2 linked regions of the Homo sapiens genome follow. The protein of the gene in region 2 interacts with the protein of the main gene of each other region in a biochemical or structural test. Each region holds a gene or a part of one and is shown on either strand. Other genes may lie near its edges. The genes, in order: GOLPH3 and GLT8D1.

Region 1 (16,284 bases), on a different chromosome or scaffold from region 2:
TAAAACATTATGAAATTTTTTTTGCAATTTTTTTTTTTTAAAGCTCATCAGCTATTGCTAGTGTTAGTGTATTTTATATATGGCCCAAGACAGTTCTTCCAGTGTGGCCCAGGGAAGCCAAAAGGTTGGACACCCTTGCTCTAAATGTTTAAGGTGAAGCATATTAACATGCTGTTTTTCGGTGATTGGGTCTTAAGAAGATAATCTAAATAATTTGTTGAAGTTTAACCATACTCACATAATTTAAACAATTTAAAGTTATTTGGCGGGTAATTGAAACCATGTGTTCTGTTTATTTTGCATCAAGAGTCACTCATTATACTTTGCTAGTCATGGCTAAGGTCCAGATGCTTGCTAGCTTATTGTGAGCATTTCTTCCTGATTTCAGCAACCACATGGGGAAATTTTTTCTCTTTTTTTTTAGGCAAGTCCAGAGAGTTGAGGGGTGGGGTTGAGACTACTGGGATTTTGTATTGCTTTAGGTTTTGGTTTTAGGGATTAGCCTATATATTTTTTCCTTTCATCACATCTTTAAAATTTTTTTTTTTAAGAGATGGAGGTCTCAAGATGTTGCCCAGGCTGCACTCAAACTCCTGGGCTCAAGTGATCCGCCCTGAGTAGCTGGGAATACAAGGTGCATGCCATCAAGCCAACTCATCATGTCTTTACACTCTAATAACCAGCCCTGTCAACTTATCTGTTGGTATGTTTTTCCCTTGGGAGGCTCGCCACCATGTTTTTAACCTATAGTACTCTTTTTAGGAGGCAGGAATTGCTGTCTTACCCTGAGCCCAGGCGTTTATGCTAACTCATTGCTTTAACTGATTTTTACTTCAGCATTTATCTTTTTAATGTCTGGATTCTCCTAAGAACTTTAAAAGCTAAACTTTACATTTAAGCAAATCATTAATGTTGGAAATATTTTATATATGTGAGCTAATAACCTTATGTGAATATACTTGTTAAACCAGTACCTAGAGCAAGAAACAGAAGCCCTAGCCCTCCACTTGAGTATCTTTCCAGTCACTACCCATTCCTCAGGGGTAACCACTGGCTTAATATTAGAATTCAGCATAGATTAATTTTGCCTAGTTTTTTGTACTTTGTGTCTGCTTTTTGTTCAATGTGAGATTCATCCATATCGTGTGAGATTGTCCTTTGTTCTTATTGTCTTACCAATTTATTTTTAACATGTTTATAATCTATAATATTTAAAAAATTACTTTGACATATTCTGAGTCAAGTCTCCCTCTCTTTTTTGCTGAACAGAAGGTTCAGTTTTTGAATAAGCAGATGGTCTGGCTTCAGATTACCTGTTAGGAGTGAGTCTAAAGTCATTGTGATTGATTTTTTTTTTTTTCTTTACACATTTCAGATTTTTTTTTTTTAACCAATGATATTTGTTTTTTGCTTTTATAAAACAGGGATGGCTAGTCCCCTCAGAAGATTTTCATGCTCACTTGGGCAGAGAATCAGTGCATAAGTATTTAAGTAACTCTTTAAAGACCACAGTAAGGATGGCAGATAGTTTACACCTAAATTCAACTGCCAAGTAATTAGCAGTATTTCTTTAATTGACCCAGTGTTTGAGGGGGAGGGACAGCAAAAGTGCCAGGTATTTTCCTTTCCCTGTGTGTGTTTATTCTATAGATGCTTTCCATAGAATATTTTCAGGATGCTTTATTGAGAATTACCACAAATAACTGGTGTCATATATGTTTGAATGTCTTCATTGGTGGCAAATCTTAGTCTTTTAAGGTTAGATTTAATTATTTTCAGTGGCCAAGTATAATTTGGAGTATGCCTATGGAACAGCAGAAGCAGAGAGAGGCTCTATAGTCCTGTCCAAAGTGTATTCTTTGGCTTTTACATATAATTTAAGCCTTCTGAGCTTCAGTGTTTTCATGTATAATGGAAAAGTAGTCATTCCATATGATGGTTCTGATTGTACTGCTGTGGATGTTTATTAACTCCTCCCCAGGTCTTCGCTTTATTTTGTATTACTTTAGGGTTTCCCCATAGTGTGTTGCCTGTTTTTGAGACAGGGTCTTTCTTTGTCACCCAGGCTGGAGTGCAGTGGTGCGATCTTGGCTCACTGCAGCCTCAACCTCTTGGGCTAAAGTGATCCTCCTGCCTCAGCTTCCCGAGGAGCTAGGACCACAGGCACACACCACCATGCCCAGCTAATTAAAAAAAAATTTTTTTTTTATAAAGACAGGGATTTCACCACATGGCTCAGGCTGGTCTTGAACTCCTGGGATCAAGTGATCCTCCCGCTTCAGTCTCCCAAAGTGCAGGTATTAGAGGCATGAGCCACCGCACCTGTTTTTTTTTTTGTTGTTGTGTTTTTTGGTTTTTGTTTTAAGACAGATTGTGCTGTGTCGCCAGGCTAGAGTACAGTGGCGAGATCATAGCTCACTGCAGCCTCGAACTCCTGGCCTCAAGTGATCCTCCCGCCTCAGCCTCCCAAAGTGTTGGGATTACTGCGACCGGCTCTAGGATGCACTCTTGAAGCATATTATTCCCCTGCTGTTTTGTCATGCAGCCAGACTTGTCCAATCATATGTTTTCTTTCAGGGCTTTGGATCTTGAGAGAATAACGAGCTGTAGGGTTTTTTGGAGACCTTTCCAGAGTCATGTCAGCGTGTGGATCAGACTGTTCTTTGGCATGGTTCTTTGAGCTGCTTTCTCTGGTCTGTTGGCACTGTTTTTTTCCAGTCTGATTTTCCAGTCATCTTTCAGTGTTGTGAGTTTCAACAGCCTTCCAGTAAAGTTGCTTTTTAAAGATAGCCAGAGTCAGTTACTAATGTTTCTAATGCTTGTAGACAAGAACTGTAATACAGTAACTTAACTCTATGTCTTGAAAAATAAGTAGGTACTTGAGGTAAATAATATGTAATGGGGTAAAATACTTAAGATTAACCAAAATGATAGAACTGACTTTTGTGTGGCTTTTACACAGGCTCCAAAGATGTTTTCCATTTTTGGAATAAGGTTCCCAAGGTCACTACTTTGAAGTATAATAGTGATGAAGATGTATAACTTAACAAAAATTGTTTTCCTTTCTATACGTGTGGTGATGTCCACCATCTCTACATATCAAATCTGTAAATCAGAAATTCAGTCAACAAGTATTCAGAATTTCCAGATGTGCTGAGTTTTAGTAATTTAAAATATAATAAAGGCTTCTGAGTTTTTAATGAATTTTCGTTGTTTCTAAGACAAATGATATTTCCTTCATATTTTTTGAAGTTTTGAATTTTTATCTATTTTTTTCAGGTGTTTAAACACAGGTATGAGATATACAGGATCTCAGAAATTACTTTTGAAGTTCATTAAACTATTTGATTGTACTTTTTTTCTTTTGAGACAGGGCCTAGCTTTGTCTTCCAGACTGGAGTGTGGTGGTGTGATCATGGCTCATTGCAACCTCGACCTCCTGAACTCAAGCAATCCTCCCTCCTCAGTCTCCTGAATAGCTGGGACTATAGGCGCACCCTATCATGCCCAGCTAATTAAAAAAAAAAATTTTTTTTTGTAGAGACGTGGTCTCACTATGTTGCCTAGTCTCGAACTCCTGGCCTCAAGCAATCTTCCCGCCTTGGCCTCCCAAAGTTCTGGGATTACAGGTGTGAGCCACCACGCCTGGTCTGCTTATTATACCTTTTCAACAAGATTTTATACTGTTGAAATTACTTTTTAGTGCTTTGGGATTCTTTTACAATATGGTCAAAATATTCACTAACTCATCTCATAAGTTATACTAATATTTGATATTTGTTAATTTTGGACTACCTGAGAGTTCTTGTATGGAGCATTTGAATTACGTTTTAGAATTGTATTTTGAAGGCTGGGTGCGGTGGCTCACACCTGTAATCCCAGTACTTTGGGAAGCCGAGGTGGATGGATCACCTGAGGTCAGGAGTTCAAGACAAGCCTGGCCAACATGGTGAACCCCTGTCTCTATTAAAAATATAAAAATTAGCCAGACATGGTGGCGAGCACCTGTAATCCCAGCTACTCGGGAGGCTGAGGCAGGAGAATCACTTGAACCTGAGAGGCGGAGGTTGCAGTGAGCCAAGATTGCGCCACTGCACTCCAGCCTGGGCGACAAGAGTGGAACTCCATCTCAAAAGACAAAACAAAACAAAAGAATTGTATTTTGAAGTTATTTTGATAGATTTTGAAATATTTGGGGGATTTTTTTGATATTTAAAGAAATACACTTTTATAATATCATCTTACATGTAAATCTTAAATACCCTGGAGGCATCAGGCATTATGCTTGTTCTGGTACATAATGTTAAGCTTTTGGCTGTACACTTTTTTATGTCTTTGCAAACTCCCCCCCCCTTCTAACAGCATAACTTTTCTACTGCCATTAATCAGATTAAATAGTATAAAACTATGCTGTAGTCTTTGTTTAGAGGATTTATCTTCATGTTGTGAGTCTCCCTTTGAAGCAGCACAAAAAGACAGTGCTTGTCCTCCTCCTGCTTTTTTTTTTTTTTTAAGATGGAGTCTTGCTTTTATCACTCGGGCTGAAGTGCAATGGCACCGTCTTGGCCCACTGCAACTCCGCCTCCTGGGTTCAAGTGATTCTCCTGCCTCAGCCTCCCAAGTAGCTAGGATTACAGGCGCCTGCCACCATGCCCAGCTAATTTTTGTATTTTTAGTAGAGATGGGGTTTCACCATGTTGGCCAGGCTGGTCTCGAACTCTTGACCTCAAGTGATCCGCCCACCTCGCCTTCCCAAAGGTCTGGGCATGAGCCACTGTGCCCGGCCATGCTGCTGCTTTTTAGTAAGTGTCCTGACAAGTGCCAAAAGTGGAAACCTGGCTTCATTTTGAAATTGATGTTTTTGGCTTCAGGTTTCTCTTATCAAAGCTGGGAAGACTGCAACCTGTTTTAATAGCATTGTACAGTATTACAATGTAATCTAGTACATTTTGAGGTTTTTGACTTAGGTATTACAAATATATTTAGAACATAGGCTATTTCTCTTCCCGTTTGGTAAACCTCTCATCTGCAAAAACACAACTAATATTAAAGTACAGTGTATTGCCAACAAGGATGTTTCTGGTCACTTTTAAGAATAACATTTTAAACAACAACAAAAAAATTTACTTATTTTTAAACTTAATGCATTGTATTTGATTTACATATTCCTTTAATGGAGAAGTTCTTAAATTGGAGTGAACAGAGCTGAGAAACTTTGTGAATTCTCTGCAGTTGTGTGTTTTCTTGGGGAAAGAGGACAGAACTTTCATTAGATACTCAAAGCATTTAGTGAATCAGGAAGGTTAAAAATTACCAAACAGGAACTGTTTGTTTTAGCTTAAGGTTTTCGTCTTTTCTTTTTCCTTCCTGAAAATTAACTACAGAAAATTCCAGGTTTCCAGGGTTGTAGCGAGTTGAATTTTAAGTGATTTGAGATACGAAGTCCACATTTCTGTGGCCTGTCTAGAGGTTCTCATCTTGCTAAATGACATTTAGAAGCAGCATAACTGCTTCTAATCTAGGATTACCACACATCTAGGATTCTAACAGTTTTCATCCATTCATCAAATGTTTACTGAGCACATGCTCTGTGAGAGGCCCTTTACTAAGTACAAATTCACTGAAGAACATGTCTGTCTTCAAGTTCATTCATTTTAGTTCTGTGTGTCAAAGCTCATATAGTAAACTACAAAACTAAATTATGTTGCTGTTCTAGAATTTTTTTTTTTTCTCTTCTGAGACAGAGTCTTGCTCTGTTACCCAGGCTGGAGTGCAGTGGTGCAATCTATGCTCACTTCAACCTCTGCCTCCTGGGTTCAAGCGATTCTCCTGCCTCAACCTTCTGAGTAGCTGGGATTACAGGCACTCACCACCACACAGGGGTACTTTTTGTATTTTTAGTAGAGACAAGGTTTCGCCATGTTGGCCAGGCTGGTCTCAAACTCATGACCTCATGTGATCCACCCACGTTGGCCTCCCAAAGTGCTGGGATTACAGACATGAGCCACCCTGCCTGGCCTGTTCTATAATTTTTTGATGTCATATATTTCAGGCTGGCATTTGGCAGTCACTCAGTACAATGACATTACTCACATTAAGAATACATAATTTACCTAACCCTGGCAGGTGTGGTGGCTCATGCCTATAATCCCAGCACTTTGGGAGGCTGAGGCAAGGGGATTACCTGAGGCAGGGAGTTAGCGACCAGCCTGGCCAACATGGTGAAACTCCATCTCTACTAAAAATACAAAAATTAGCCAGGCAGGGTGGTATGCACCTGAAATCCCAGCTACTCGGGAGGCTGAGGCAGGAGAATCACATGAACCCAGGAGGTGGAGGTTACAGTGAGCTAAGATCATGCCACTGCACTCCAGCCTGGGCAACAGAGCAAGACTATCTCAAAAAAAAAAAAAAAAAAAGAATACATAATTTACCTTATTAAGTAAGCTAATATTATTTATTAAAGTAAATTTACTTATTAAATAAATTTACTTAATACATTTACTGTATTAATTAAGTAGATTACTGGCTTTATTAAGTAAATTATGTATTCCCAGTGTGGTAATGTCATTGCCAAGGGAGTGAAACTTGGTTCTGGGCGTGGTAGTGAAAGAATCGTACTCTTGGCCGGGCGCGGTAGCTCACCCCTGTAATCCCAACACTTTGGGAGTTGAGGCGGGTGGATCACGAGGTCAGGAGATGGAGACCATCCTGGCTAACATGGTGAAAGCCTGTCTGTACTAAAAAAATACAAAGAAATTAGCTTGGCGTGCTGGCGGGCTCCTGTAGTCCCAGCTACTCGGGAGGCTGAGGCAGGAGAATGGCGTGAACCCGGGAGGCGGAGCTTGCAGTGAGCCCATATCGCGCCACTGCACTCCAGCCTGGGCAACAGAGTGAGACTCCGTCTCAAAAAAAAAAAAAGAATCTTACTCCTCTTATGTATAAAAAGGCACACTTACAGTGTACAAACAAATATGTATATTCCATCATATTAAAATTTCATGGGGGAGAAGATAATGAGGAAAAAATCTGGAAGTACTTCTTAAGGGAACAGTGATGAAATAAAGGGTGAGAAACATTGAAATAAGTCACTATGGAAAATTATAAGCTTGTGCTTAGTTGAGGTTTAGAAATCTTTTTCTCTGATAGGAATTTTTATTGCAATAGAATTTGGCTTGTAGTTCAGTAGGAAGAGGAACAATTTTAGCATACTGAACTGCGTGTAGGAACTTATGAGTTAAAGTTTTAAGGTAAAAGTTATTTTTATTGATAATATATAGGCAAACTTTGTATTCCACCACTACCTTCTGGGACAGATTAGAAATTAAGAAACTGTATGTAAAAGTTGCTAATGGTTATTTTTACTCTGGTTTCATTTTCTAGTTCCAGTTTCTTAAATGGAAATGCTAAACAGTTTATACCGTATTAACAAAATAACCTCAGAAATAACACTTAAGAACTTAAATTTCAGTTCAGTCACTGAATGGAGTATACCATTTAATTTTTGTCTATACCATGTTGTGTAGCTAAAGTGAAATTAGAGGTTATTTAGTATTTATATGTTCCGTTTAATCCAAGTATTGAACAGCTTCTCTGTGCCATTCATTCCCTTTGCCAGATGCTGGGGTTACAAAGAAAAAAAATATATATATATATGTATATATTTTTGAGACCAAGTCATGCTCTGTCGCCAGACTGGAGTGCAGTGGCATGATCTTGGCTCATGCAACCTCCTCCTCCTGGGTTCAAGCAATCCTTGTGTCTCAGCCTCCCAAGTAGCTGGGATTACAGGCACATGCCACCATGCCCAGCTAATTTTTGTACTTTTAGTAAAGACGGGGTTTCACCATGTTGGCCAAGCTGGTCTTGAACTCCTGGCCTCCCAAAGTGCTGGGATCACAGATGTGAGCCGCTGTGCCCCCGGCCACAAAGAAAAATTTTTTGCTTTTAAGGAGCATTCAGTCTGCATAGAAGACAGATTTGCGAATGATTTCAATAAAGTGAATTATTAACTTTATCCTGCCTGCCTCTTCTGAGTTACTAACTTTTATGGGAGTATGTGTTAGGTGCAGTAAGGATGTACATAGGGAGGATGCTTTGGATCAGGACCTGCAAGACTGCTGTGTTCTTGACACCTAGCCTTGCCCTTGAGTAGTTGAAAGAATTAGAATAAATATTTTGAATTTTAGAACCTTAGTTTTCTCCTGGGCAAAATGGGCCTACTTTTTTATTTTTTATTTTTGAGACGGAGTCTCGCTCTGTCACCCAGGCTGGAGTGCAGTGGTGCAATCTTGGCTCACTGCAAGCTCTGCCTCCCGGGTTCACGCCATTCTCCTGCCTCAGCCTCCCGAGTAGCTGGGACTACAGGCGCCTGCCACCACACCCGGCTAATTTTTTGTATTTTTGGTAGAGACGGGGTTTCACTGTGTTAGCCAGTATAATCTTGATCTCCTGACCTCGTGATCCGCCCGCCTCTGCCTCCCAAAGTGCTGGGATTACAGGCGTGAGCCACCGCGCCCGGCCATGGGCCTACTTTTGTGTTCTGTCCGAAAGCCTCTAAGTTGTAGGGATCCAATGTGTTGGCATATGTGAGTGCTTTGAAAACCACATGGTGCTGAACAAATGCAAATGGGTAATTACCTAGCCTAGAGAAGTAAGTTAAAGTTTATAGTGGTCTTGACAAGTGACAAGTATTTAATATTTCCATTATTTTTACTATTTCTTGATTCTCTTGCACTTTATATGCTGGGCTTACTGAACGTTTTACTCAAATTCAGATGCTCATCTATGCGTGTATTTTTTTAAAAATTTTAATTTTTTTTTTTTTTGAGACGGAGTCTTGCTCTGTTGCCTAGGCTGGAGTGCAGTGGCCCAATCTCTGCTCACCGCAAGCTCCGCCTCCCGGGTTCATGCCATTCTCCTGCCTCAGCCTCCTGAGTAGCTGGGACTACAGGCGCCTGCCACCACGCCTGGCTAAATTTTTGTATTTTTAGTTGAGACGGGGTTTCATCGTGTTAGCCAGGATGGTCTCTATCTCCTGACCTCGTGATCCGCCCACCTTGGCCTCCCAAAGTGCTGGGATTACAGGCGTGAGCCACCACGCCTGGCCTTAAAAATTTTAATTTTTATGGGCACATAGTAGGTGTATTTATCTCTACCTTTGTTCTGAACCTCTGGTCAGTTTCCTTTTTGTAATTCCTGGCAAAACTGGTTTGGGAAATTTGGAAACTTGAAGTACCACTTGACTTCTGATTTTTATTTTTTTATTTTTTATTTATTTATTTTTCTTTTTTGAGACGGAGTCTCGCTCTGTCGCCCAGGCTGGAGTGCAGTTGTGCGATCTCGGCTCACTGCAAGCTCTGCCTCCCGGGTTCACGCCATTCTCCTGCCTCAGCCTCCCGAGTAGCTAGGACTACAGGCGCCCGTCACCATGCCCTGCTAATTTTTTGTATTTTTAGTAGAGGCGGGGTCTCACCGTGTTAGCCAGGATGGTTTTGATCTCCTGACCTCGTGGTCCGCCCGCCTCTGCCTCCCAAAGTGCTGGGATTACAGGCGTGAGCCACCGTGCCTGGCCCGACTTCTGATTTTTAGGTCAAGCCCAGAGTCTTCCTTAAAGAATCCTTGGGATTGGTTCCATGATTCCTCTTTTCCAGATACTGCTTAGCCTCCAGACGTATCAGTAGCCTCCAAGCCTCCAAAATGACTCCAGTCACAATTAAATAAAATAGCACATGTAAAGTGCCTGATAGTTGGTGCACAATAAATATTAAGTTTCATTACGCCTTGATGCTCCAAATCAGAAAACTCAAAAGGCCTTGACCTCTTCCAGCCCTTGTGGTCAGCAGTTCTCTCCACCTTTCCATATTCTCAGCTTTGGTTTTTTTTTTTTTTTTCCTCAGCTTTGGTTTTTTTTTTTTGAGACAAGGTATGCTCTGTCACCCAGGGTGGAGTCCAGTGGTGTGATCTCTGCTCACTGCAGCCTCAAACTTGCTGGGCTCAGGTGATCCTCCCACCTCAGCCTTCCAAGTAGCCGGGACTACAGGCGTGCGCCACTATACCTGGCTACTTTTTGTATTTTTTGTAGAGATGGGGTTTTGCTGTGTTGCCCAAGTTGGTCTCAAATTCCTGGGCTCAAGTGATCCTCCCTCCTCGTCCTCCCAAAGTGCTGGGATTACAGATGTGAACCACCGGGCCCAGCCTCACCTTATCTTTTTGATGCCACCCAATTTTTTTTTTTTTTTTTTTTTTTTTTTGAGACGGAGTCTCGCTCTGTCACCCAGGCTGGAGTGCAGTGGCGCGATCTCGGCTCACTGCAGGCTCCGCCTCCCAGGTTCACGCCATTCTCCTGCCTCAGCCTCCCGAGTAGCTGGGACTACAGGCACCCGCCACCACGCCTGGCTAATTTTTTGTATTTTTAGTAGCGACGGGGTTTCACTGTGTTAGCCAGGATGGTCTCGATCTCCTGACCTCGTGGTCCGCCCGCCTTGGCCTCCCAAAGTGCTGGGATTACAGGCGTGAGCCACCGCGCCTGGCCCATGATTACTTTTTTAGGTCTTCATGTTTGTGTTAGTGGATCCTTATATGTAAGGCTCTGCCTTTTTCTACCTAGCAGCCAATTCTTAGTTATTTCTTACTGCCTAGTGAGACTCTTCACCTTAATCTAACTTCTTAGTTGCTCTCACATCCTTTTTGCCTACCATTGTATCTCTAGCATCTAGCACAATGCCTAGTATTGCACAAGTGTTTGTCTTTAGAATGAGTGAGGGGACACCATTTTATTTATATCAGTATTATGATAATCACATTGAAATTGTAATTATTATTTCTTCCTTTTCATTCTATGCCTTTGTATATTAGTCATCTTTATCACCTCTGTTTAGTAATGTCTTGGCACTCAGTAGAGTTTATTGAGTTAAAATTATTCTTGAAATATATTACTTCCAGCTGGGTATGATGGCTCATGCCTGTAATCCCAGCACTTTGGGAGACCAAGATAGGAGGATTGCCTGAGTCCAGGAGTTCGAGACCAGCCTGGGCAACACAGCAATACCCTGTCTCTATTTTAATAATAAAAATGTATATTAAACAAATAGAAATTTATTACTTCCAATAATTTTTTTTTCCCCAGAGTCTCATTCTGTCACCCAGGCTAGAGTGCAGTTGTATAATCATAGCTTACTGCAGCCTTGAACTCCTGGGCTCAAGTGATCCTCCCACCTCAGTCTATTTTGAGAATTTAAATAATTACAGTTTTTGCTTTATGCAGCATTATGCCTCAGCCTCCCAAGTGGGAATGATTTTCTGCTTTTAGAAAATAATGCAGAGGCCAGTATCTAATAAATGTTATAGTGACTTGATATAAAACTTACATAGGACTTGTCAAAATGTCCTCAACTTAAAATACTTACCCACAGTATGATGCAGTAGTAAAAGTGCTGTATCTAGAGTCACAGCTCTGGGGCTCGAGGTATCACTGCTCTAGAGTGTGAATGTAGTCATATTTCTTACTTTCTCTAAACCTCAGATTTTTCAAATGTAAAAAGGTGATGATATTTTACTAGGTAATTGTAGAACCTAGATGATAATTTATAAATGGCTTTGCAAACTGAAATGTTATTCTCTTGTATTAAAACCTTCGTGTTTCTTACAGAAGAATAAAGACTGTAGCTTATATTTAGGTCTTACTAACAAGATGCTGTTAAATATACTTTAAAAAACCACTAGTGAAAAACCCTTAAAAATTCATTTGCTTGAGAGGGAGTGTCTGCTCACACTTTGTTTTGTGCTCTCTGCTGTGAAGTGATCAGTGGCAGGTGTGGAAAGAAAAAAGTGATACCAGTCAAGCACCCCAGTCTGAAAATCTGAAATTTGAAATGGTTCCAAAATTTGAAACCTTTTCAGTGCTGACATGATATCACAAGTGGAAGATTCCATACCTGGCACACTTTGTTTCATGCTCAGAACTATTTAAAATATTGTGTAAAATTACATTTGGCTATGTGTATAAGGTATATGTGAAACACAAATGAATTTTGTATTTAGACTTAGGTCCCATCCCTAAGGTATCTCATTATGTATTTGCAAATATTCCAAATCTAGAATCTGAAACACTTCGGGTCCCAAGTACAGGGATACTCAACCTGTACCCTCTTCTGTTTCAGGGGGCTGAAAGGAAGCACACCTAGATCATGCATTAAATAAACAGGTCTTGGAAGGCAAGACAGAAAAGGAGCCAGGGCTTTGGAGCCAGGCAGACCAATTTCATTCCCTGCTTTGCCACTCAGTGCGTGGCAGGTCCTCTGAGCCTCAGTTCCATTATCTTGTGAAATTGGAAGAATAGCACCTACTTTACAAGGTTTCCTAAGAATTAGAAAGAATGTACACTGAATGCTTAACACAGTTTTAACAGCATAGATACTCAGTGTATGGCAGAGTATGACTGTGTGCACTTTAAAAAAGGATTTGGAAGGATACATTCCAAATGTTAATGGAGAGTATCTTGAAGAGGGAATGTGTGAGGGATGGAAGCGGAAGAGAAAGTAGAGACTTTTAATTTTCTGTCATGTATTTCTATTTGAATTTTTTTTGAAAATAAGTGAGAGTACCTGAGAAGTCTGTGTAAGTGGCCAAGAGCACTCCGTTGGAGGAATAGGCAGCAGAAGAGTAACCTGACAAAGAGCCCGAGCAGGAGCTGCCAGAAGAGGGGGATTGTGGAGCCAGCAGGAGGAAGAGTGAGGAGTAGTGGAGATGGACTTGCTGATGATACCTTCGAGTCTGCTGTGAATGGAAAGGAGATAGGGCAGGGTTGGTCCGGGTCTGTCTCTTGTATGATGGTAACTGTGAGAATATTTGAAGGCCAATAGGCAGGTGCTAGTATACATGTTAGAGATTTAAGGTATTTTAGGAGGGCAGGAGTTGTGAACAAAGGGAAGTAGGAGAGAATGGGTAGGATTAGCTTTAGGCAGACTGCACTGTAACGAGACAAAAGAGTGGGTATGTATGAAATTGAGTTTATTGAGTTGGTTTGTTTTTGTGAAGTAATCTGCTGAAAATGAGCTGAGCTTTAGAGGTTTGGGGAGAATGGGGTTTTGAAATATCTGATATGGAGAGTGGTAAGAGCTCTGAGTAGGGAAACTGATTTTGCCGTGTGTGTGTGTGTGTGTGTGTGTGTGTGTGTGTGTGTGTGTATTTTATTTATTTATTTATTTATTTATTTATTTATTTATTTTGAGACAGAGTTTAAAGCTGATTTTGCCCAGTGTGTGTGTGTGTGTGTGTGTGTGTGTGTGTGTGTGTATTTTATTTATTTATTTATTTATTTATTTATTTATTTATTTATTTTGAGACAGAGTTTAGCTCTTGTTACCCAGGCTGGAGTACAATGGCGTGATCTCGGCTCACTGCAACCTCCTCCTCCTGGGTTCAAGCGATTCTTCTGCCTTAGCCTCCCAAGTAGCTGGGATTACAGGCATGCACCACCATGCCCGGCTAATTTTGTATTTTTAGTAGCGATGGGGTTTCACTATATTGGTCAGGCTGGTCTCAAATCTGCTGACCTTAAGTGATCCACCCGCCTTAGCCTCCCAAAGTGCTGGGATTAGAGGCGTGAGCCACTATGCCCAACCCCAGTATCATTAAAGGTTTAGTTTAAGTTGGAGACAGTACATTTATATACTGAGATTTCAATATTTTTTTACATCAGCAGTTCAGAAACACAGGTACAGATATGGAAAAAGTGACAGTTGGATTGATCCGGGGCTGGAGTTTTGCTAGTTGAATGCAGTGGGAAACAATGGATGTGTTTAGGAAACTAGTAAGGGTGTAGTTGAAGGTAGTGTACTCTGGCGTTGTTTGCCCATCTTTGAATTGGGATTGATAATAATAGCACTTAGTTCAGAAGGTTGTTGCGAAGGTTGAAATGAGCTCCCACAGTACTTAGTACTCAGAACAGTGCTTTGCACATGGTATGTGCACAGTAACTTATTGTGCTGGGTGGGGATGAGGGAAAGAACGGAGGAGACTGGTGGGAAAAAGGGAGGAAGGCTGAGGATTGGAATCCCCATAAGGATGATGAAAAGTTACTTGTGGATTGAATTTCCGAGTTGGATTTGGTTCTCATCAAAAGGTTGTGGGTTTAAGGATGCTGATGTCCAAGTTCCCAGGGAGTGGCAGATAAGATCCCTGGTTTTGAGTGAAGACCATGAGAATAGAGGCCCTGAGGGCCCTGGCTGTTACTTCTGTGAAAAAATACATTCTGTGTTACAAATTGCTTAAAAGGGAACTTTTAAAACGTAATCATAACTTGATTACTACCAGTAACTTACACATGTGGATGGCACCCAAATCCAATCATTATTTAGTTACTTTACTGGTTTTGTTATCTGTCTTAGTTTATTTGGGCTGCTGTAAAATACCATAGACCAAGGATCTCTAATCTCCGGGCTATGGACCGGTACTGGTCTGTGGCCTGTTAGGAACTAGGTTGCACAGCAGGAGGTGAGGGGCGGGCAAGCGAGCATTACTGCCTGAGCTCCGCCTCCTGTCAGATCAGCAGCAGCCATTAGATTCTCATAGGAGTATGAACCCTGTTATGAGCTGCGCATGTGATGAGGGATCTAAGGTAGGCGATCCTTATGAGAATTTTAACTAATGCCCGATAGGATCTGAGGTGGAACAGGCTCATCCCAAAACCATCCCCCCCGCCGCTCCAGTCCGTGGAAAAAATTGTCTTTCCTGAAACCAGTCCCTGGCACCAAAAAGGTTGGGACTACCACAATAGACAGTGTGACTTATAAACAACAGATTTTTTTTTTTTTTGAGACAGAATCTCGCTCTGTCACCCAGGCTGGAGTGCAGTGGCGCAGTCTCCATTCACTGCAACCGCTGCCTCCCAGGTTCAAGTGATTCTCTTGCCTCAGCCTCCCAAGTAGCTGGGATTACAGGTGCACACTACCATACCTGGCTCATTTTCTATTTTTACTAGAGACAGGGTTTTATCATGGCTGAGACCACCAGGCTAGTCTCAAACTCCTGACCTCAGGCGATCCGCCCACCTCAGCCTCCCAAAGTGCTGGGATTACAGGCATGAGCTACTGTGCCCAGCTAACAACAGGAATTTATTTCTCACAGTTCTGGAGTCTGGGAAGTTCAAGAACAAGAAATTGGTGAGGGCCTGCTTCCTGGTTGTCTTCTCATTGCATCCTCACATGGCAGAAGGGCATAGGGACTCTCTGGGGCCTCTTTTATAAGGGCACTAATTGCATTCATGAGGCTTCTGCCTTCATGACTTAATGACCTTCCAGAGACCCTGTTGGGGGTTAGAATCTTTTTTTTTTTTTTTTTTTTTTTTTTTTTTTTTTTTTTGAGACAGTGTTTCACTCTTGTTGCCCGGCTGGAGTGCAGTGGCTCAATGTTGGTTCACGGCAACCTCCGCCTCCTGGGTTCAAGCAGTTCTCCTGCCTCAGCCTCCCAAGTAGCTGGGATTACAGGCATGCGCCACCATGCCCCACTAATTTTATATTTTTAGTAGAGACAGGGTTTCTCCATGTTGGTCAGGCTGGTCTCAAACTCCCGACCTCAGGTGATCTGCCTGCCTCGGCCTCCCAAAGTGCTGAGATTATAGGCATGAGCCACCGCTTCCGGCTAGAATCTTAACATGAGAGTTTTGGGGGGACACAAACATGTAGTCTATAGCCTTACTCTTTTGCTAATTAAAAAAATCAGAAAGCTGAGGGCTTTCTTTAGTCATTTGAAATGCTTAAGGGGAGTTTTTGGCTTAGTTTTTTTGGTAACAGCTTTATTGAGATTTAATTGACAATTCACTTATTTAAACAGTACAATCCAGGATTACATGCCTGTAATCCTAGCACTTTGGAGGAGACCAAGGCAGGAGGATTGCTTAAAGCCAGGAATTTGAGACTAGCCTGGACAACGTAGTGAGATCCCATTGCTAAAAAAATAAAAATAAAAAGCCGAGTGTGCTGGTGCCTGCTTATAGTCTCAGCTACTCAGGAGGCTGAGGTGGGCAGATCATTTCAGCCCAGCAGTTCAAGGTTGCAGTGAGCTATGATCAAGCCACTGCACTCTAGCCTGGGTGACAGAATGAAACCCTGTCTTTAAAAAAACAAAGTAAAAGGTAACAATGCAGTGACTTTTAGTGTATTTAGAGTTGTGTATCCATCACCATAATACATTTTAGAACGTTAATTTTTTTTTTTTTTTGAGACAGAGTCTTGCTCTGTCGCCCAGGCGGGATTGCAGTGGTGCGATCTTGGGTCACTGTAA
Region 2 (16,284 bases):
TCTACAGAAAAGCAGGCTTGAGTTTTGGGATGAAATGATTGGGGAGTGTAAATTGCAGCAAAAGAGTTCCCTGAATTTGCAACCTCTTCCCATTAAACAATATTGTAGGAAGAGGGGTGTTTGGTAAGCAATTTACCTGGTTTCCTGCTCCACGGATGACAACTTTAGTAGAGGCTGAATCACAATCTTCTGAAAATGCAGCTGCATGTCCTGGCTTCAGTGCTGTATTGTAAAGGGCAAGAATATCACCTGAAATAGACAAGATGTTAAGATTTACATTTCCGTTGCCTTGAGAGTTCCCTGTTACTCCCACTTCTCCCTATGGTGACCTTTTATAGAAGACCATAAATAAACCACTACAGCCCACTGTAGCCCATTGTTTTATTTAGCAATTGTACCCAATCTGGGTGGAGAACAGCACTCATGGTGACATTTTTGATACCTTGCACAATTACATCATCATCCATGTATATGGCCTTCTTTGCGCTGGGAACCAGAATTGGCAAGTAGAACCTTGCAAAGGTTAACTGGAAAAGGAAAGAATAATTGGCATAGGATACCGCACTAGCTGTGCTTTTATTTACACAGAAACTCCTAGGATGCTTTCAGTACCCATTCAGGAGAAGAAAGGACTCTTAGAACCACCCAGGCTTGGTCCCCAGGAAACTACTTGCACTATACCCACAGATACCCAGGTATTCCATTATTTCCTAATACTGCCAAGTGCAAAGAAGGATGCATGGAACTCACAGGTTTCATGGATTCCCCCTGGTCAGGATCCTCCTTTACTTTTCCTTCCAAAAGTTTAGGGTCAAAATTGACAATTTTGTATCTGATGCTTTTCAGGGAATCACTGTTGAGCCAGGACCTGATGAAGATAAAACACTACATTTTAGTTTCAAATAATGTCTCCAAACCAATGAGGGAATAATGCAAAAGAAACCCTATGGACCAAATAGGTGTTTTCAAGCTCCTTTTATCTCTGAGCTTTGGTTTCCTCGTCTGAAGTGAGGGTAATTCCCACCAAAGTCCCTCCCTGAATTAAGATTGTATGGTAATTATCTTCTAACACTAAAACTACTCTAGAAAAACTATAGAATTAAGAACATTTCATCACCACCTGGACTATCCAACTCTTAACTGTGGTGACCCTAATTCCACCACTCAAGTCTGAGGCACTACCTGTAAGAAAAAACTGTTTGCTAAAGGAGTACTGCACATTTTTTCTAGGTCAGTTTCAAATCAGTGTTTTGTGGCTACTTAGTGTTATTTCTGTAGTCTATTTTTATACAGCTTCTGTTTCTGTATTTTAAATGCGTTCAGAATTTACAGCTTTAAAAACTAAATATGAACCATGCAGAGGGCCACAAGGACCAAAATGTTTCAGAAATTTGACAACTGGTTAATTTGTTAGACCAACAAATTTGGAGTAAGTTTTATAAGTCTTATTCATTTTCAAAATGGATTAGACTATCCAAGTTTCCCCAGATCACTCTGGGCCAGGATTTGGATCAGGATCTGTGATCAGCATCACAACACTACCTTGCCATTGTTGCTAAGTCCCTTCCCACTCTAGACCAGAACTGCTCCGAGCATGTCCATGAAATAAGGAACTTGTGACTTGTAAATCAACATTTACTGCTCCCTTCACTGAGAAAGTATTATTATCAAAACACCATCAGGTGGGGTTAACAGTTCAGAGTGACAGCTGACTTACTTCCTGGCATGAGCTCCTTGTATCACTTCTCCTATTATGGGGATATGCTCATAATACAGTCCTAAAAAAAATATGTCATTTGTACAGTTTATCACTGGTACAATTTCAATTGTATAAAACAACATACAAACCACAGAAAAACAGATCCTGGATTGGCAGCTGGCCTGCTCTAAATCATCCTCTAGAAGCAGAATCACATAAGCAGAGCTCACCGGAGATGGTCTGCTGTATTGTTGAGAGTAACAATGTAGAAAATCACATTGGAGCGAGTGTTGTGCTGAATGCTGTTTATAGCTGCAATGGCCCCCCCAAGCCTGTCTTCAGATGCAGCGATGACCACAGGAATCTCCTCTTGTCTCCCATCTACTGCATGTCGGAGAGCATTTGGGACAAAGTCTATAGGTTGAGGCCCTACAATTCCTGAATCTGAAAACACAAGGAAGGCACTGTGATTACAATCTCATGGGCTTTTGATATAGAGTCCAAGACATGGAAAAAGGGAAGGTAAGGATTATGGTACTGATCTACCTCATTCTCCCCCATTAAACTGAAGCATATAGCCCTGAAACTTTCCCTGTATGTAAATAAGCTTTTGGAAAAGTGGAGGAAGCATTTTTTAAAATACACTGACAGCACTTTGGTACACTACTGGTAGGAAAATAACAGAACCTGTTAGAATGTATTATGGCAATTTGTATCAAGAGTTTCCTAAGGACAAAATCTGAAATATAATCAAAAGAAAGAATTTTATTTAAATTGTGAAAACTTAGCAGCAAACTAAATCAATGTTTTTCAAGTCACGAATCACAAGTAGGCATGAAACCAATTGAGTGAGTCACAATCAATTTATACAGAAAAAGTTTCTGGATTGCAATAGAAAACTGAAATAGAGGCCGGGCATGGTAGGTCACGCCTGTAATCCCAGCACTTTGGGAGGCTGAGGCGGGTGGATCACTTGAGGTCAGGAATTTGAGACCAGCCTGACCAACATGGTGAAACCTCATCTCTACTAAAAATACAAAATGAGCCAGGTGTAGTGGTGAACACCTGTAATCCCAGCTACTTGGGAGACTGAGGCAGGAGAATCGCTTGAACTCGGGAGGTGGAGGTTGCAGTGAGCCAAGACTGTACCACTGCACTCCAGCCTGGGCAGCAATAGGAAAACTCCATCTCAAAAAAAAAAAAAGAAAACTGAATTAGAATACCAAAGAAAACATAGTGTATCACACAAGGAAACTGCAATTACTGTCCTGTATGCATTCTTGCCTTTCATTTTTTTTTTTTTATTCCTCATTGAACCCTGGTATTTACTATGTGCCAGGCAATATCTAGGCACTGGGGTTACAGCCATGAATAAAACATCCCTAACTTTCTGAGGATAGACAGCCAATAAGCAAATACACATGTATGTACATGTGCTACATGTAATGTATTTCCTATTGTAGGGCTGCCATCAAAAAGTCTGAAAGCTGTTGTAGCAAAAGATGTTATCCTGTGGAAACAAATTAATAGACATTAAGATTATGTATGAAGAGTTTCTACCATCACAGTGACATGATATACAGAAAAACATGTCATGTACAGTTTATATATAGTACAATCTCAACTGTACAGAAAAAAAGATGTGTAGGAAAAAACTGGAAGGTACTAAGCCAAAATTGTAAATGAAATCATTCAACCAACTAATATTTATTGAACAGCTAGTATCAGCCATCATCCATAGGCACAGAAGATAAAACAGTACACAAATTGCCTTCATGGAGCTTAAATACTGTTGTCTCTTTTTTTTTTTCTTGAGACGAAGACTCACTCTGTCACCAGGCTGGAGTGCAGTGGCGTGATCTTGGCTCACTGCAACCTCCGCCTCCTGGGTTCAAGCGATTCTCCTGCCTCAGCCTCCCGAGTAGCTGGGACTACAGGCGCATACCACCACGCCCAGCTAATTTTTGTATTTTTAGTAGAGACGGGGTTTCACCATGTTGGCCAGGCTGGTCTTGTACTCCTGACCTCGTGATCTGCCCACCTCAGCCTCCCAAAGTGCTGAGATGGTCTCGATCTCTGACCTTGTGAGACGCCCACCTTGGCCTACCAAAGTTTTGGGATTACAGGCATGAGCCACTGCTCCCGGCCGCTGTTCTCTTTTTTATAAACTTTCCTACCAGGAACATGCATTACTTTATATGTATCATACATATATACACGTGATAAAACATGCTATCAGAGCACTCCGTGAAAGTCAGGGGAAAGCTATTACAGTCTCTCACTCTGGTCAGCTATGGTGGGTGGCAATCCAAAAATGATTTTTGACAAACACTCAAGCCTCAAACATTTCTCAGTACCAAGGGAGAACAGTATGAACGACTAATTCAATATACTGTGCGATATATTATACAACACAGTGATTTTTAAAAATCACTTGACAAACTTTTATTGCTACAGTCCCACTGATGCAGCTGCACAGCTGAAGGAAAGTAACTAGACTGACACTCTAGTGACTAGAGCAGGCATCAAACACCAAGGACACTGGTATGCCCTCACTTTCTGAAGCCCTGTCCTGCTGACATGTGAACAGATGGCAGCCCTCAGAGGCTCTCCTAAGGCCTCTGATTTGGTGAAAAGGAATATTCTGTCAGATCAAACCCTTAACAAACAACTGCTAGTACTACCGGAAGAAGAACAACTTAGGATGTGTGACACAGAGAATACCAGGTCCGCAACAGATTCTAAGGCATTATTAATAAGTGCTCGCATACCTGTAACCTCATTCCTTAACAAACTGCTCAAGCTGAGGAAGTTATGGTGCAAAACCAGTAAGAAGAGAGCAACAGCCAGGACCAAGATGATGATGTTTACTGAAATAGATAGGGAAAACCTATGTTATACCTCTTTATCTTTGACCAGGTATAAAAACAACTTAACTTGTAGAAAGAGCATACCTTTACGGAATGACATCTTTTTCTTCTGTCATATAAATATTAGTTTTTAACCCTACAAAACAAAAACAAGCCCCCAAAGTCAGTAAGCACATGAGAAGGGACATCAAAATGCCCTAACACTTTTTTTTTTTTTTTAATTCAGGAAGAAACAAGAGGCATATACAGTATTCCGCCAGAAACTCATTTTGAATTCACAGTTCCCAAGAACCCAATTTGGGATCTGAAATTTTTGTGGTACTCATTAATAAAAAACTTAAAAATAAGTTGGAGAAACAGCCTTAGCCTTGTACATTATACATCACAAGATGAAAAGCAAAAGAAACATTTAAGAATTAAGTTTCAGCCAGGCAGGGTCTGGCCTATAATCCCAGCACTTTGGGAGGCCGAGTGGGGTGGATCATGAGGTCAGGAGTTCAAGACCAGCCTGGCCAAGATGGTGAAACCTCGTCTCTACTAAAAACTGCAAAAAAATTAGCCAGGTGCAGTGGCAGGGGCCTGTAATCCCAGCTGCTCAGGAGGCTGAGGCAGGAGAATCGCTTGAACCTGGGCAACAGAGGTTGCAGTGAGCCGAGATCATGCCATTGCACTCCAGCCTGGGCGACAGAGTGAGACTCTGTCTTTAAAATAAAAAATTACATAACATAATTAAGTTTCTACTTAAAATTCCTAAAGTAGACATGGATTCACGTTGTCTATGACCAAGTAACCTGAGGTCTTAGCCTCATCAGTAAAAACATGCCTGTTCAGAGTTGTATCCCATTCACCTTTAACATGAGTGTCCTCAGAGAAAAGAATATTATCCAAATTCACTTGACAAACCCACAGCACAGAAAAAGCTACAAAAATTCACAAAATCCAATCGATATCAAAAGTGTGGAGTACATTTCTAGCCATTGTAACTAGCAAAAAAAAAAAAAGGTTTATTTTAGTTTATTATTTTTTGAAACGGAGTCTTGTTCTGTCGTCCAGGCTGGAGTGCAGCGGCATGATCTCAGCTCACTGCAACCTCTGCCTCCCGCATTCAAGCGATTCTCCCGCCTCAGCCTTCCCAATAGTTGGGATTACAGGTGTGCGCCACCACGCCCAGCTAATTTTTGTATTTTTAGTAGAGATGGGGTTTCACCATGTTGGCCAGACTGGTCTCGAACTCCTGACTTCGTGATCTGCCCACCTCAGCCTCCCAAAGTGCTGAGATTACAGGCGTGAGCCACCACGCCCGGCCAAAAAAACATTTAAGGTGCTATTCTCAAAAACCATCTCTGTTAGCTAGCTATTCATCTCTTAAGAAGGTGGTGTCTAATTGTCACAATGTCCTGGTTGGTCCTCCTCAGCTCATCTGACCTTCACTTTTTCAAAACAATTCAGTGGAAACAAGATAGTAGGTGGAACTAAATTTATTTAAAAAATAAATTCCTTCAACAAGCTCTGGATAAAATGTTTCCTTAAAGACATTTTACCAACCAAGATATCGTGAACCTACCTTTTAACCCTTTCTTACTTCATCTTCACCCATAGTAGTACCCAACCCTTACATAAGGCTATTAATTTTACAAAGCACTTTCAAACATAGCGTATTGCAATGCAAGTTAGTTCATTTGTTTTTTTAGACAGGGTCTCACCATGTTGCCCAGGCTGGCCTCTAACTCCTAGGCTCAAGCAAGCCTCCTGCCTCAGCCTCCCAAGTAGCAGGGACTACAGACAAAGTAAGTTTGAATTAACTTCATCCTGGGAAAATTGTGTGCCTACCAGGCACTTAATTTCTCAAGGCCTTTGTAAAGAAGAGAAATATGTTGAAAAACTGTTTAAAAAATTGGGGGCTGGGCACTGTGGCTCATGCCTATAATCCCAAAATGAAAACAACAAGGCTAACGCGGGCAGATCACCTGAGCTGAGGAGTTCAAGACCAGCCTGGGTAACATTGTGAAAGCTCATCTCTACAAAATATACAAAAATTAGCCAGGCATGGTGACGTGCATCTGTAGTCCCAAGCATTTGGGAGGCTAAGGCAGGAGGATCCCCTGAGCCAGGGAGGTCAAGGCTGCAGTAAGCCATATTCATGCCACTGCACTCCAGCCTGGGTGACAAAGCGACACCCTGTCTCAAAAAAATAAAAAATAAAAAGCAATAAAAACTGTGGATCAGCCAGGCACTGTGGCTGATACCCATAATCCCAACTATTCAGGTGGCTGGGGTGGGAGGCTGCCTGAGCCCAGGAGTTCCAGACCAGCCTGAGCAACATAGTATGACCATCCCCCAACCCCATATCTAAAAAAAATTTTTTTTAAAAATGGGATCACAGGCCAGATTACAAATTAGGGGGAAAATACACATCTTTCTTTCTTTCCTTTTTTTTTTTTTTCGAGACAGAGTCTGGCTCTGTCAGCCAGGCTGCAGTGCAGTGGTGCCGTCTTGGCTCACTGCAACCTCTGCCTCTCAGATTCAAGCAATTCTTGTGCCTCAACCTCCCGAGTAGCAGGGACTACAGGTGTGCGCCACCACGCCCAGCTAATTTTAATAGAGAGAGGGTTTCACCATGTTGGCCAGGCTGGTCTCGAACTCCTGACCTCAGGTGATCCACCTGCCTCGGCCTTCCAAAGTGCTGGGATTACAGGCCTGAGCCACCAGGCCCAGCCCACACACACCTTTCCAAAGCAGTATATATGAAGTACAACGTGTCAGTGAACTTCTTCTCATATACATCAGGGCGCCGTGGCTCACGTCTGTAATCCCAGCACTTTGGGAGGCCAAGGCAGGTGGATCAAGAGGTCAGGAGTTCGAGACCAGCCTGTCCAAGATGGTGAAACCCCATCTCTACTAAAAATACAAAAAATTAGCCAGGCATGGTGGCAGGTGCCTGTAATCCCAGCTATTTGAGAGGCTGAGGCAAGAGAATCCCTTGAACCCGGGAGGCGGAGGTTGCAGTGAGCTGAGACCGTGCCACTGCACTCCAGCCTGGGCAACAGAGTAAGACTCTGTCTCAAAAAAAAAAAAAAAAAAAGAGAAGTATATACATCAGTATATACCCTAAGTCATATGCCTCTATCACATTATGGGCTGACCTTATCTACAGAAGCTGGCAGAGGGGAGCTGTTCGGACAAAGCCCCAACATCTGCCTGCGATGAGGCAACTTCCACCACCACTGAGAAAACGATCTTGCACTCAAATAAATCCCACTTAATTAATGGTACAAGAGATAATGTTTTTAGTTTCTTGACTTCCAGTTAGCAGTTACGGGATCAAGAGGCACACTTGGCTGGAAACAAGAAAAACACAATTCTATCAAGTATCTGACATACTTAAGTAGACTGGCAAGGCAGAAACCAGTTGCTCCTAAAACTTCCACAGTTACCTACATGCAAAACGCCAGTTATCATGGAGTACGTCTAATCCATATTGTCTTTCCTGGGGCTATTCCTGGTAAGAGAGCTTTCCTGATCTGGTTAGAAGGAATTCTCAAAACGAAATTGCACACAGACGCTGGATCTGTAATAGTTAACTACATTTTCGTAAGAGTATATAATTGTGTACAATTTGATTAGCAACACAGTTGGTCCTCAGTATCAGTCGGGGATTGGCTCCAGGACTCCCCATGTATACAAAAATTCACGGATGCTCAAGTCCCTTATGTAAAATGGCATATTACAGTCAGCCCTCTGTATCTGTAATTTCAGTCCGTGGTTGGTTGAATCCAAGGATACAAAACTGTGGATACAAAAAAAAAAGACCGCACTGGCCGGGCGCGGTGGCTCATGCCTGTAATCCCAGCACTTTGGAAGGCCGAGGTGGGTGGATCACTTGAGGTCAGGCGTTTGAGACTAGTCTGGCCAACACAGTGAAACCCCGTCTCCACTAAAATCACAAAAATTAGCCGGGCGTGGTGGCGCATGCCTGTAATCCCAGCTACTCAGAAGGCTGAGGCAGGACAATCCCTTGAACCCAGGAGGCGGAGGTTGCAGTGAGCCGCGATCGCACCACTGCACTCCAGCCTGGGCAACAGAGCGAGTCTTCGCCTCAAAAAAAAAAAAAAAAAAAAAAAAAGACCACACAGAGATATATCTATTTATACACACAACAGAAAGTCTCTTCAAACACACCAAGAAATACAGAGCATGAGAAGGAAACAGGAATAAACTCTTGCCCATCCCTCTTTCTGCCTTCTACACGTCCTGAGTCCTTCTGAGGTCAGAAAAGTGTCAAACGTGTCTGCATTTTACTGTTTGGTCTCTGCCACGTGCAAGGATGAAAGGGCACTGAGGATATACAAACACTTTCTCCTACCCTTTCATCTGGCTGGCTCCCACTTGGCATTCAAAGGTCAAGGTAGCCTCCTCCAAACTCCACGTTGAGCTGCACCTCCCCTGAGCTCCCACATCTGGGCCTCCCTCTCCCAGGGCTAATCCAGCTGTCATGTATTTCTGGCGTGATGTGGCTGTCTCCCTTGACACGCTCTGGGCTCTTCCAAGGCAACAGCCTGGTCTTGGTAACAACCGTGTCCTCGGTCTGCTGTCTGGCACAAACAAGGTGCCGTGAATATTTGCTGGTTGCATGAATGAGGACAGCAGTCCCACCCTGTCCCGGGAGTGCCTAGAATTCCACTGTTTGTGGCCAACCCAGAATACATAACCTGGGGGCCGGAGAGCCAGCTGGGACCCAGAGGCCCGGGTTCCTCAGAACGGTTTCTCTCCAAAACGTGGGCATCCCACCTGGCTGACGGTAACGGAGGAGGGTCTAAGATTTAGAGATACACCAGCCTTGAAAGAGAGGCTGAGTGAACCTTTGGCTGGCCTCTATCGGGAGGGCCCAGCCTGGGTCTGTGAGGGTCAGTAAAGCCGGCCACAATGTGAGAGGGCTGAGTTCGGGAGCCCCCAGATGAGGGACTTTCTACGCGGATGAGAGGGACAGCCGAGCACCAGGGTCCCCTCTCCAAGGGAATTCTCTCTGTTGTGGATGCCGCCTAGGGTAGCCCCCCTAAATTCCAAGGGTCAGTAGGGCCCCCCTTACACTTTGAAGTGATCGGAAAGTGATGTGACGCTCCGGGGATCCCACCAGGCTCAGAGATACCCCTGGTTAGGGCTCCGACAAGTCGTTCCCCTCAAAGGCTCGCCGCGGCCGCCCTTACTGCAGGCGATGGAGGAGATGCGGATGCAGCCCGCGCCCCGACCCGCCCTGCCAGCTCAGCGCCCGCGCCGCAGGCCCCGGAGCCCAGCCCGTTGTCTGGCCGCCCGCGTTCCCTGCACGCTGGGCCGAGCACACTTGCCCTCTAGCTCCGTGGCAGCCGCGCAGCCCCACTACGCCCAGCCAGCCCGCAGCGGTAACCGCTAGAGCGTCGCGCCAAGCAGGCGCCGCGGGGCAGCCCTGCCGCCGGGGTCCTCGCAGGGAAAAAGGCCGTCGCCATGGAGACGCGGGGGCGCCGGCGGCCGTTGGGCCGCGCAAGTACTGTCAAGGACAGTTTTCGGGACGGGGGACGCGGCTCCAGGCACCCAACAGCACTGACGGCGAACACTTCACGGGCGCGCGATGCCTCGACAAGGCGGCCGCCACCACCACCTCAGCTGCCCTCGCGGGCAGCACGGCGCGGCAAAAGCGCACGTCGCCTAGCGATGGCGCGGGGCGGGGACACGGGCTGTACCGGCCCGTCGGAGACTTCCGCTTCCGGGGCCGCCGCCATCGCTCTCCCGGGCTTAGAAGGCCCGGCTACTGACGCGCAGTGCCAGACCTTACCCCTCACGGTCCTTAAGTCTCGGTCGCCCTCGCCTCGCAGCCTGCCACCCGCGCTCAGCTGCCCGCCTCCTCAGCCAGCCATGCTGGAGCATCTGAGCTCGCTGCCCACGCAGATGGTGAGGGCGCAACCCGGGGACCTCTGCACGCCGTTCTTGTGCCTGGCAGCTTCGAAGCCCATGTTGGAGCACCGACCCGGTGCTGCGCTGTTCCGGGCCCGGATGGTTACCGTCCACCCTCTTTCCCGAATTGCCTCCTGGGTCCCCTTCTCTTCTACTCCGCGAGAATCTCCTGTCCATTCTCCGTGAGGGTGTTTCAGTTCCTCCCGGGAAGCCCAGAATTTAATATCTTGCCCAGGCCCTTAGGAGAGCGGGAGACCCTGATGTTGGGGTTACCCTGTGCCAGAGTTGTGAGGTCAGGGCAGGAATTGTATGTTCTCGGCGGTGGAACCAATTCTTTTTTTCCTCTGCTTCACCCCAGGATTACAAGGGCCAGAAGCTAGCTGAACAGATGTTTCAGGGAATTATTCTTTTTTCTGCAGTAAGTATTGGTTTTACATTTAATCTCCGCCCCCGCCTCCCTCCCAACCCTCAGTTTGAGTGTGTTTAATATACTTCATTTGTCTCTAGATAGTTGGATTTATCTACGGGTACGTGGCTGAACAGTTCGGGTGGACTGTCTATATAGTTATGGCCGGATTTGCTTTTTCATGTTTGGTAAGAAATTTGTGGGTATTAGTGGCAGCTTGGGTTTTGTGAGTCGGGTTGGTTTGGTTAGACCTACTCAGTAGTGAGACCCAAAGCCAACGTTTCCCTCATCCTTCCAAACAGCGTTTCCCTTTGCTATCATTGGAAAAGTAGAATGCCAAAATAGTGTCAGATGGTGCGAACTATATAAAAGGACACAGCTTATTTCCTTTGGCGGCTACTCTGGCTAATAATCTTAAGGTCAAAGCCAGCAGGAGTTTTCATGGTGCTCACGTTGTCCCTTCACCTTTTATTTATTTATTTATTTAAATTTTTTGAGACGGAGTTTCACTCTTGTTGCCCAGGCTGCAGTGCACTGGGGCGATTTCGGCTCACTGCACCTTCTGCCTCCCGGGTTTAATAGATTTTCCTGCCTCAGCCTCCCGAGTAGCTGTGACTACAGGAGCCCACCACCACACCCAGCTAATTTTTGTATTTTTAGTAAAGACAGGGCTTCACTGTGTTGGCCAGGCTGGTCTCAAGCAATCCGCCCACCTTGGCCTCCCAGAGTGCTTGGATTACAGGCGAGAGCCACCACGCCTGGCCCCCACCTTTCTTTTAGGTCTTAAAGCCATTTGTATAGGCAGTGAGCCTGTTCCCATCATCATACAGTATTTTGCATGGATGGTGGCACAGAGCCTTTATAGGAATATGGATTTTTTTTTTTGTTTTTTTGTTCCCTCAGCATAGGAGTCATTTGGGAACCTGGCATTATACGTAATGATTTTTTAAACTTTTAATAGCTATAATTTATGCATTTCCTCTTTTCTGGCCCAGCTGACACTTCCTCCATGGCCCATCTATCGCCGGCATCCTCTCAAGTGGTTACCTGTTCAAGAATCAAGCACAGACGACAAGAAACCAGGGGAAAGAAAAATTAAGAGGCATGCTAAAAATAATTGAGGTTTTCATGATTCAGCACCTGCTTTTGTTTCTGTGAGATGAGCTAAATTGCTTTCATACCCCAGATAAGAGCTAAAACCACCTAATGCTCTTATGGCACAGCTGTGTATAGATTTAGTTCTCTTTATACTTCATTTCTAGCCCAGTTGGGTTTTGATTTATATAAGTAGTTTAGACCTTCTCTTCATAATCTTGCTCTGAGATGGGGAACAGAACACACAAGTATGAAGTTTCTTTCAGGTGTAAATAATGAAAAATAAATGCCTCATAAATGATAGTACAATGTAACTATCAAAGTTTTATAATTCATTATGAGTTAACCATTTTAATGTTTCCAATTAAACCTCATAGTGCAAGTTCTTTGTCTAAAGGGTCTTCTGTTGATTATTCTGCAAGGAAGATAATTAATAAAAGCCTAAGTTAGAAGTTCGTGCTTCTGGCCAGGTGCAGTGGCTCTCACCTATAATCCCAGCACTTGAGGAGGCTAAGGCAGGAGGATGACTTGAGCCCAGGAGTTTGAGACATTTCATGGTATGTAATTAATAGTTGTCATTAGAACATTAGTTCCATGAGAACGGGGACTTTGTTTTGCTCACTGCTGTCTACCCAGTACATAGAAGAGTACACGATGCATTGTTAAGTACTTAAGATTTATTGAATGAGAACTGCATTGTACAATATGGTGCCACTAGACACGTCTATTTAATTAAAATTAAAATATAAAACTCTAAAACTAGCCATGATTCAAAGGTTCAATAGCTATATGTGACTAGTGGCTACCATATAAAACATTTCCATCACAAAGTTCCATTTATCAGATCTTATATAGAACCTTGAATAAAATTTAATAGACAAGTGATTTTGTATTTAACATTTCACCTTTATTGAATGCCTATAAGGCCATTTGAATAACGGATCATGTACAAAGCAACAGGAAAAAAAAAACTGCAAGCAGTAAAGGTTGTGCAGGTGATATTCAGTAACACTGCAGTGTAGCCAGAGCAAGGACATAAAACTTCCTTAGCTTTGTAAGTCTGTGGAAATCAAAACTTCTAAAAGAGAAAACCGAAATCAGAATTACTGACACTTTAGGCCAGGCATGGTGCCTCAAGCCTGTAATCCCAGCATTTAGGGAGGCCAAGGCAGGCAGATCACCTGAGGTCAGGAGTTCAAGACCAGCCTGGCCAACATGGTGAAACTCCATCTCTACTAAAAATAACGAAAATCAGCCAGGCATGGTGGTGTGTGCCTGTAATCCCAGCTACTCGGGAGGCTGAGGGAGGGGAACTTGAACCCAGGAGGCGTAGGCTGCAGTGAGCCAAGATCGCACCACTGTACTCCAGCCTGGGCAACAAGAAGACTCCATCTCAAAAAAAAAAAAAAAAGAATGATTGACATTTTAGAACCAATGCCAAAAGAGTAACACATCAAAGTCTCTGAACTGTGGCCAAAGGTATATTCGGAAGAAAATTCACAGTCTTAAAGATGAGTTTTTAAATTAATTTAGGAAGATGAATTAAGCACTCAAGTAAAAACGATAAAAGTGGGAAGAAAAGATGTTTAAACAAAATAAAAATATACAGTATGGTAATTAATAAGAAAGTATGGGGGAAGTCAGGTGTGGTGGTTCATGCCTATAATCCCAGCACTTTCAGAGGCCGATGCAGGAGGACTGCTTGAATGCAGTTTGAGACCAGCCTGGGCAACACAGACTTCCTCTCCACAAAAAATTTTAAAAATTAGCCAGGTGTGGTGGTGCATGCCTGTGGTCCTAGCTACTTGAGGGGCTGAGGTGGGAGGATCACTTAAGCCCAGGAGGTCAAGGCTGCAGTGAGCTATGATCACCTCACTGCACTCCAGGCTGGGTGACAGAGCAAGACCCTGTCTCAAAAAAAAAAAAAAAAAAAAAAGATATGGGTGAGATTCCTTTAATTCTAATAAAATACCTACTTTATACCAATACATTAGAAAAATTAAGTAAAACTGATGACTCTCCAGAACGATGTGGATTTCCAAAACATGCACGGAAAGGTGAATAGCTCAAGGATACCAAGTTTGCCAAAGATTTGTTCCCAACTGGGCATTGGGACTTGATGGTTTTGCAAGTTGAGTTCTAGCAAACCCTTCAAAGTGAAAATAAGAGTTATCAGAAACCAGGCTGTGAGCACTGTAAAAGGGCAGGAAGTATTGTTTTATTCACCACTATATCCCCAGCTCCTGGCAGAGAACCTGGCACACAGTAAACTCTAAATAAAAATCTGTTAAGTGTGCCGGGCGCGGTGGCTCACGCCTGTAATCCCAGCACTTTGGGAGGCCGAGGCGGGCAGATCACGAGGTCAGGAGATTGAGACCATCCTGGCTAACACGGTGAAACCCTGTCTCTACTAAAAAAATACAAAAAAATTAGCCGGGCATGGTGGCGGGCAACTGTAGTCCCAGCTACTCGAGAGGATGAGGTAGGAGAATGGAGTGAACCTGGGAGGCGGAGCTTGCAGTGATCTGAGATTGGGCCACTGCACTTCAGCCTGGGTGACAGAGCAAGACTGTGTCTTAAAAAAAAAAAAAAATTGTTAAGTGGCTGTAAAGGGAACATTTCATTAGAGTATTTGTGTGTGTGTGTAATTTTCAAAGATAGATATATTTTTAGTTATAGAAACTGAAAACAGGGCTGGGCACAGTGGCTCATTCCTGTAATCCTGGCACTTTGGGAGGCTGAGGTGAGTGGATTGCTTGAGCCCAGGAGTTCTGAGATCAGCCTGGGCAATGTGGTGTAACCCTGTCTCTACAAAAAATACAAAAACTAGCCAGGTGTGGTGGCACACGCCTGTGGTCTCAGCTACTAGGGAGGCTCAGGCAGGAATACCACTTGAGCCCCAGAAGTGGAGGTTGCAGTGAGTTGAGATCATGCCACTGCACTCCAGCCTGACTGACAGAGTGAAACTCTGTCTCAAAAAAAAAACACCTGAAAACATTTCTGGAGCAATATTTATTTTTAGAGTCCCTCGAATACAGAAGTGAAAATGTACTATTCAAGACTTGTATTTAACTTCATAAAATTTCTTTCCTAGATGGGTATTACCTCTTATTAAACAACTAATAAAATATGTGCTATATAATCATACATTTAAAACATGGAAAGACAACTAATATCTTACAGTACATGAAGACAAACTTCAGGAGACAAACATTAAATATATCCAAAAACTAAATGGACCTGGACTTTGCTTACAAATTGCTTAAATGGAAATGAAATTTGTGTTTAAGAAATGTTTTCACTGATGGAAAAATAAATCTAACAAAACCATTATGTAAAAACATACTGATTTACAAAGCCAATGTGTCTCAGTTTTAATTTGTATATACCCTAGATGAGGTTTATATTAAATGAGAATAAAATATTAAAAGTCCATCAATGTGTAGAAAAGAAATACAGCTGCTCAAGTACTAGATAGAACTTCATATTCTTTAAATCTATTTCTAGAACTGAATTGACTTTTTAAAATTTTATAATTTATCAACTACTCCTTAAGGTTATTAACAATAGCAGGAATTATGACGACATATTATGTCATTTGTTTCTCCTACTGCTTTTATCTCTACATTACAATATAAAATTTTCAATCCAGCATTTTATAGCTCTGTGTTTAAGTTAATTAGTACCTTAAAAAAATAAAATTCTAAATATAAACTTGGTGGATTAAGGCTCAGTAAACAGTAATCAAACAAACAACAGATTTGTCCTCACAAAGAGAATATGAAAGCCAAAGTTTTTTTTCTTTTGTGATCCTGCTTCATATTATTCTGTTCTGTCCAATTTCTTTTCTGTAGGGAAACGCCAAAGAGATATAAAAAAGAGATATAAAACAGTGGTGAGTGGCTTCCAAATGACTGTTTGCCCTTGCTTTTTAAGCCAAAATCCTCTAAAAATAGGTCTTTAATTCTGGCAGCAGATTAGGACAAATGCTCAAAAATTCATGTTTTCTTCAAAAAATTTCAACTGGCGAGCTTTCACACTGTAAGTTGTATACTTTTCACCCATGTGCTCCCGCAAACGTACCTATTTGAGAAACAAAAAGAAAATCAATCAGTATGTAGTAGGAAAAAATATTTCTGTAATCTTAGAGGAAGGGCTTTTCTAAGCATGGTATCCAAGGTGGAAACCATACAGGAAAATACTAATAGTTCAGTTTACATAAAACTTTTAAACTTCAAGATGTTTCGAAAAGTCGTAAGAAATTAAAGAGCAAACAAACAATAAACTAG

What was found.
Region 1: the proteins of GLT8D1 (region 2) and GOLPH3 form a complex in vitro, tested with the Homo sapiens proteins (one study listed by BioGRID).

What each region holds. Positions count from the first base shown.
Region 1 is NC_000005.10:32,155,036-32,171,319, reverse strand, and holds part of GOLPH3 (Golgi phosphoprotein 3), read left to right. Parts: intron 1-16,284. UniProt on the Homo sapiens protein: Phosphatidylinositol-4-phosphate-binding protein that links Golgi membranes to the cytoskeleton and may participate in the tensile force required for vesicle budding from the Golgi.
Region 2 is NC_000003.12:52,695,792-52,712,075, forward strand, and holds the start of GLT8D1 (glycosyltransferase 8 domain-containing protein 1), read right to left. Parts: upstream 10,001-16,284; 5' UTR 9,656-10,000; intron 9,162-9,655; exon of another isoform or gene 8,933-9,161; intron 8,138-8,932; exon of another isoform or gene 8,008-8,137; intron 7,908-8,007; exon of another isoform or gene 7,713-7,907; intron 4,706-7,712; 5' UTR 4,670-4,705; coding exon 4,654-4,669; intron 4,570-4,653; coding exon 4,471-4,569; intron 2,144-4,470; coding exon 1,930-2,143; intron 869-1,929; coding exon 751-868; intron 528-750; coding exon 443-527; intron 250-442; coding exon 137-249; intron 1-136. Other genes in the region: SPCS1 (signal peptidase complex subunit 1), read left to right, coding at 10,456-10,491, 10,853-10,912, 11,002-11,088, 11,896-12,021.